2 linked regions of the Homo sapiens genome follow. The protein of the gene in region 1 purifies or fractionates together with the protein of each later gene. This does not show direct contact. Each region holds a gene or a part of one and is shown on either strand. Other genes may lie near its edges.

Region 1 (3,826 bases):
GAAAGAACAAATGTAAGTCCTCCTGGGATATAGTGTGAATGACATTAAAATATGTCATTAAAACAAACATTTCTTTTCTTTCTTTCTTTTTTTCTTTTTCTTTTTTGAGACAGGGTCTCCCTCTATTGTCCAGGCTGGAGTGCAGTGGCACAATCATATCTCACTGTAGCCTTGACCTCCTGGGCTCAAGTGATCCTCCCACCCCCGCCTCCTGAGAGCTGGGACCACAGGCACGTGCTACCACACCTGACGAATTTTAAAATTTTTTGTATAGACAGGATCTCACTATGTTGCCCAGGGTGCTCTTGACTCCTGGGCTCAAGCGATCCTCCCACCTCAGCCTCCCAAGGTGCTAGGATTACAGGCATGAGCCACTGCACCCAGCATAAAATGAGCATTTATAATTCCAGTATGCTCCTGTGTCGGATGTTTGAGAGTTAAGAGGTACATATACATTTCTTGGCACTTTGAGATGATTAGCTGAACCAGTCACTGCTCTGTTCAACAGGTGGATTTTCGGAAAAGACATATGAATGGAGCTCAGAAGAGGAGGAGCCAGTGAAAAAGGCAGGACCAGTCCAAGTCCTCATTGTCAAAGATGACCATTCCTTTGAGTTAGATGAAACTGCATTAAATCGGATCCTTCTCTCGGAGGCTGTCAGAGACAAGGAGGTTGTTGCTGTATCTGTTGCTGGAGCATTTAGAAAAGGAAAATCATTCCTGATGGACTTCATGTTGAGATACATGTACAACCAGGTATGCAGGAAGTACTTTAAAAAGTTTTCTTTCTTCTGTGCTTCTGTCACTTCATGTTTTTATTTCATGGTGTTCAAAATTTTCATTTCTATTATTATGTACCCTATATATGAACCAGCTAAAGAAATGCTGTGGTGTAACCATTCCAACCTCAGTGCTTTGGGGACCAAACTACACAGACCAATTTTCTCTGAAGCTGCTTTGCTGCATTTCCCTTAGAATATAACTTATATTTTTATTCTTTTAAAAATAGGCACATAATATTCTGATTATAGACTTAAATGTTATAGTGTTTAAAATGTCACATAATTTTTGTATTGTAATCACTTTTTTCCAACATTTAGTATGAAATATTTCAAGCATATAGCAAAGTTAAAAAAATTTTATACTAAACATCTTGGTATCCACCACCCAGATTCTACCATTAACATTAGTATTCCTGCTTTATCACTTATGACTCCATCTATTCATCCCTCTTTCCAGCCATCACTCCAAGTTATTCTTTGATGCATTTGAAAATAAATTGCTGGCCGGGCACTGTGGCTCACGCCTGTAATCCCAGCACTTTGGGAGGCCGAGGTGGGTGGATCACGAGGTCAAGAGATCAATACCATCCTGGCCAACATGGTGAAACCCTGTCTCTACTAAAAAAAAACACACAAAAATTAGCTGGGTATGTTTTCCTTGTCCTTCAAGGTTATTTTTCAGGCTTAGGATTTTTATGAATATCTCAATGTAGATCATTGACTCAGAGTGAATGTTATGGAAATGTTATTATGCTAATTAATAATAATCACAATTTATTCATTGAAGTATGCATCCCAAGACATTTTTCCAGGTAATACCTTATTGGAAAAATTTCAATTTCTACCTCAATAGTAATTATTTATTGACTACCTGCTAAATGTTCTAGATTGTGCTAGGCACTATGGTGGATACCAAAGAAAACATACCATAGATTTTGCACTTAGGCATCTCATGGTTTGGCCAAGGAGACAGAATAACAATAGGTGAAATATTTAGAGCATCATTACATGGTGATATGGTGACAGATATATTTTTTCTTTTCTTTCTTTCTTTTTTTTTTTTTTTTTTTTTGATACAGAGTTTCACTCTTGTTACCCAGGCTGGAATGCAGTGGCGCAATCTTGGTTCACTGCAACCTCTGCCTCCCGGGTTCAAGGATTCTCCTGCCTCAGCCTCCCAAGTAGCTGGGATTACAAGCATGCGCCACCACATCTGGATAATTTTTTGTATTTTTAGTAGAGACAGGGTTTCACTATGTTGACCAGGCTGGTCTCAAACTCCTAACCTTGTGATCCACCTGCCTCGGCCTCCCAAAGTGCTGAGATTACAGACATGAGCCACCATGCCCAGCCTGATCGACGTATTTCTAAGTGTAGTTCAGGGAAGGGCATATTGTAGGCAAAAGTAACTGGAGAAAGCTTCATAGAGATATTGGAAGTTAGAATAGATTTTGAAGATGTGTGGATCTGGACCAGAAAAGGAAGAATGGACATTCTGGACTATGAGGAATAAGTATAATATATGTATTAAACAGAGTGTACACCTTCTTCCCTAGAGTGGAAATTAAGTATTGGAGATGAAGAAGAAATAAGATTGAATAGGTTATTGAGCCAGATAATAGAACAAATTCACAGAAGAACCAAAGCTCTTGATAACGGTCTAAAATGCCTTTTAGAACAAGATAGGATATAATTAAATACATTTTTCTTTAAATTAGTTTATGTAGATTTTTTATCAGTCCAAGTAGTCCTCTCCCAAATTCCTCTGCATTCGTTACTGTAAGGTTTTAGATTGGACAATTATCTAATGAGATCTTCCAAAAACTAATAACTTATTCTCTGTAACAGATATCAAAATGGGGGTAACTACTATCAACCAAGGTCACCAATTACTGACTTACTAAATCTATGGGATATTTTCCATGCCTTATCCAACTTGATCTTCAGCCTTTAAACAATTGATAATTTTTCCTATTCTGTCTTCCTTTGGCTTCTCAAACTCCACTTGCATCAGTACTTGTCTATTCCTTCCTGCTGTCCTGGCCCTGGTCAGACCTTCAATCATATTTTTGACCTTTATTATAGCACCCCCACCTTTATCTTTTCTAGCTATCATTTCCCTTCCCTACTAACTAGCCCTACCTACTTCTAGAATAGTATCTTTCTACCACAACTATGATGATAATTCATCTCTGCTTCTTCATAACTTTCCGTCGCCTGCAGGATAAAATCTGACTCCCTTAAGGACCTTACAAGGTCTTTCAGAATCTGGCTGTCTGTCCAGCCTCTTCCTGCTACTTGCTTCCTCCTCCCACAAAACCAAAGCATAATATGCTCCCTACTTCCTTCCTTTCTGCCTGCCTGCCTGCTTGCCTTCCTTTCTGGAATGCCTTCTCCAAATTTGCTTCCCTGGAAAATTCCTAAATATTTTTCAAGTCTTAGCTCAAACATCCTATGTGGTCTTGCCTGACCAATGGTTAGTTATTTATTTTCTATGCTACCATTTATGCATTATATATACTTCCATTTTGGCATGCATTTATTGCATCATAATGGTTTGTTTGCATGTCTGTCTCGCTGTTAGGCTGTGAATTTCCTCTGGTCTGCAATGATATCTTTTCATTTTTATATCCCCAGGACATATCAAAAATGTGGCAGATGGTTGCTCCTCTGTAATTATTTTTTGGATGAATAAAGTGATGGTATCAATGCAATAGATGTGCATATGTTGTTTCCTTTTAACTCGAATTGGAGAGGGATAAGAATCAGAATGAATGAATGGAAAAAACTATATACACATATCAAGTTCCATATCATAGACTTTATCATTTTATAGGAATCAGTTGATTGGGTTGGAGACTACAATGAACCATTGACTGGTTTTTCATGGAGAGGTGGATCTGAGCGAGAGACCACAGGAATTCAGATATGGAGTGAAATCTTCCTTATCAATAAACCTGATGGTAAAAAGGTATGATGCTAACTTCCTAAATAAAATTGAGTTTTCACTTATAACAGTTACTACTTTTTAGGATCCTTGAAGT
Region 2 (3,826 bases), on another chromosome or scaffold:
GGTGAAACCCTGTCTCTACTAAAAATACAAAAATTAGCTGGGCGCAGTGGTGGGCGCCTGTAATCCCAGCTACTTGGAAGGCTGAGACAGGAGAATTGCTTGAACCCAGGAGGCAGGGGTTGCAGTGACCTGAGATCATGCCACTACACTCCAGCCTGGGTGACAGAGCAAGACTCTGTCTGGGGAAAAAAAAATGAGAAATCACAGAAAGAAGAATATGACTGACAGGAAAATACAGTTGCTCCTACTGGGAAGGTGGGGATTTAAAGTTTGCTGTACTTACACCAGCAGCCTAAATTGAGGCTGGGCATGTCAGACTTGACAGCCCCAGACTTGCAGTTTCCCTCCCCCTGTGTTGCTAGGAGGCCCTAGAGAGAAACAAAGCATGAAGAAGCCTAATTGTGATGATTTTTTTTCTTTTTTTTGAGACAGAGTCTTGCTCTGTTGCCCAGGCTGGAATGCAGTGGTGCAATCTCGGCTCACTGCAACCTCCGCCTCCCGGGTTCAAGCGATTCTCCTCCCTCAGCCTCCCGAGTAGCTGGAACTACAGGCATGCGCCACCATGTCTGGCTAATTTTTGTATTTTTAGTAGAGACGGGGTTTCACCTTGTTGGCCAGGCTTCTCTTGAACTCCTGACCTCAGGTGATCCACCCACCTCCGCCTCCCAAAGCGCTGGGATTACAGGCATGAGCACCGCACCCGGCCAATTATGATGATATTTAAAGGCAATTTTGATTTTACCACTGGTAGGTATTTGCTGAATGGTAGGAGAAGGAATGGGAGTCAGGTTCCTTGAGATGTTCCCTGCTCATGCTGGTGTTTCCCAGTTTGAGGCCTCTGGCCTGTGTTGTTCTGGTGGCTCTGGCTGATCACTCTGGTGGGTCTTGGGCCATCCACATGCATTTTTCTCTCCTGTTTGCAGTGGTTGGAGACCAGACCTAACAGACAGGTGTGTCCTGTTTGCAAAGCTGGCATCAGCCGAGACAAGGTCATCCCCCTCTATGGAAGGGGCAGCACTGGGCAACAGGACCCCAGGTGAGGACTCAGGATGCCTCTCCCAACCACTTCTCCCCTTGGATGTGAATTCACTCCCATTCAGCATCCCCTAACCCCACCCTTTACTTAGTACTAGATGATCTCTTGGTTTCGAAGCAGTCTCATCCAGATGAGAGTCAGCTAGGAGGGGAGGGAAGAGAGGGGATCCAAGTTGCCACTTGCTAGGACCCAGCAGTGAACAGACATCACAATCACAAGTGTGCAGAGCCCTGTGAAAGAGCATTTCTGCAACCTGGGAAGCAGGATATGTAGCAGGAGAGGCTCCAGGGAGCAGGGTTGCTGCATCAGTGATGTATAAAGCATGGCGGGAGGGGAAACAGGATCTGGGTGACTTTGTGGAGTTTGGGATTTCTAGAAATGGAGATGTGCATGGGTCCAGCATTCAACAAACACAAGTATTGAGAGCCCTTCATGGTCTGGCATCCCCAAGCTCTCCAGAAGAATCTCTTACCTTTATCCAGCTACCCTAGCATATGCTGTGTACCCGACATATTAGACTTTCTCTTAAAGGGACTTGCTCTTTCACATTTATCAGCCTGTGTATTTGCTCTCTCTTCTGCCTTCTTCCCTCCCCAGTCCTGCTCAAGCTACCCCTCTACCCCCACCTGCTCCTCTAACTTCTACTCATCTCTTATGAGCAGCCCTAAAGTTCCCTCTTCCTTGAAGTGGTCTGTCTTCTTCACATTAGTTGCTCTCACCCAGTTCCCACCACAGTGTCATATGACTGGCTTTATCCCCCTTGAAACCATGAACACTTCAAGGGTTGGGTCTGTCATCAGTATTACAGCATCCTGCATAATGCTTATTGTATAACTAAGCCCTCAATTGAGTATTCATGGGTTGAGTGATTTGAGGGGGTGAGACTCAAAAATAATAGCATTGGGTATTTGCCCAAGAATAGTAGGAGATAGAGCTGAAGTTAATAGGGGAAGGTCAGAGAAACCATGAACCTCAGCCCTTACTGCTGACAACCCACCCTCTGTTCCAGTATGGATTTGGGATTTCTGTTATCTGTAACAGGCCCAGGGAAGGCATCTGGCCATGATTCCTAACCGATCTGAGTCAGGATCTCTGTAAGAGGAGTAGGCTGTAGTGCAATCTGGTGAATATCTCATAACGAGTTGATTTTCTCCCTGGTTCTCTATACACGTGGGAAGAACAGTTGCAGGTAGAATGAAGAGTTCGTATTTGGAGAATTAATCTGGCATAAGTTCATGTCCTGGACAAGAAAGAGGCTATGGCCCTGACCCTGTTGGTAAAGAGCTCCAGGTCCTCACAGGGAGCAACTCAAAGCAATTTGTAATAGACTTATTTTACACCATTTCTGTTTCAGAGAGAAGACCCCTCCTCGTCCTCAAGGACAGAGGCCAGAGCCGGAGAATAGAGGGGTGAGGAACATTCTAGGAGAAGCTTCTACAAATGAGCTGATGGCTTTAGAAGTTTCCTTCTTAGCCTTACAATTTTTCTCCTTGATTATAAAAGTAAAGGAAAACTTGTAAAATACAGAAAGGAAAAGAGGGGGAAAAAAATCACTTATAACCACACCAATCCAGAGGTAACCACTGGAAACATTTTGGTTCTATTTTCTTTTCCATTTTTCTATAATTATATATACACACAAATTTTACAAATCTGTGCGTGTATTTTACAGATGTGTGTATACTTTTTACAGTTTTTGTTTTTTGTTTTTTACAATATGTGGCTCCTGTTTTGTAACCCTCTCTTAAAATTTCATTTGTTCTACAGATACTTAGTACCTTCTTTGTGTGAGTGGGAGTCTTTTAGTATTATCTTGAGATTTTACATTGCCAGCAATATTTTACTAACTAGCTGTTTAGCATTTAGTTGTGTGGATTTAACATAATTCAATCCTTTGTTAGACATTAGCGGCTTTCTTTTTCCAAGTTAAAAAAAATCCTGATGAACTTACAGATAAATTTGTGAGCATGTTCATTATTATTTTATTAGGATAAGACAGGGTCTCACTCTGTAGCCCAGGCTGGAGTGCAGTGGTGTGATCACAGTTCACTGTAGCCTCGACCTCCTGGGCTCAGTCTACCTCAGCCTCCCATGTAGCTGGGACCACAGGTGCACGGCACCATGCCCAGCTAGTTTTTTGAGTTTTTTTTTGTCTTTCTTTTTTTTGTTTTGTTTTGTTTGGGTAGAAACAAGGTCTCACTATGTTGCCCAGGCTGGTCTCTAACTCCTGGGCTCAAGCAATCCTCCCACCTCAGCCTCCCAAAGTGTTAGGATTACAGGCGTGAACCACTGTACCTGGCTTAGGATAAATTCTTAGAAGTAAGATTACTGGCTAAAAAAAAATTGCACATTTGTCTCTAGTGGTCTAGTGGCTAGGAACAAAAACATTTACATTTTTTGCATATTTACATCAAATGTTACTCTTAAAAAAATTCTGTTAAAATGTTAAAGAAATTTTAAAAGCAAAATATTTACCCACCATTGCCAAGAGCCCAGAACAAGTATATTCTCATATCCTCATGTTCTCTTCATCTGTAGGCTGTGCATATGTATTTTTATGTAGCCATCACCATTCTGTTTGCTTTAAAATTTAATTTTGGCAGGTTTTCCATGATGCTCTGAAGTGTCCTCTTTATTATTTAGGCTGCCATTTATCCTATTGAGTTTTTTATTATTTTTTATTTTTCCATGCTATTGCTGGGAACCCATTGAGTTTTGGTTCATTGTAATTTGGGTTTTCCTCATCGAAGGACCTTTTAGTTGTTTCCCCATTTTGCTGTTTAAATAATG

Evidence for each region.
Region 2: the proteins of ATL1 (region 1) and RNF185 purify together in Homo sapiens (affinity purification with western blotting, with the first as the bait; one study listed by BioGRID). This does not show direct contact.

Annotation. Positions count from the first base shown.
Region 1 is NC_000014.9:50,587,323-50,591,148, forward strand, and holds part of ATL1 (atlastin-1), read left to right. Parts: intron 1-508; coding exon 509-756; intron 757-3,618; coding exon 3,619-3,753; intron 3,754-3,826.
Region 2 is NC_000022.11:31,194,546-31,198,371, forward strand, and holds part of RNF185 (E3 ubiquitin-protein ligase RNF185), read left to right. Parts: intron 1-923; coding exon 924-1,036; intron 1,037-2,390; coding exon 2,391-2,445; exon of another isoform or gene 2,446-2,612; intron 2,613-3,826. UniProt on the Homo sapiens protein: E3 ubiquitin-protein ligase that regulates selective mitochondrial autophagy by mediating 'Lys-63'-linked polyubiquitination of BNIP1.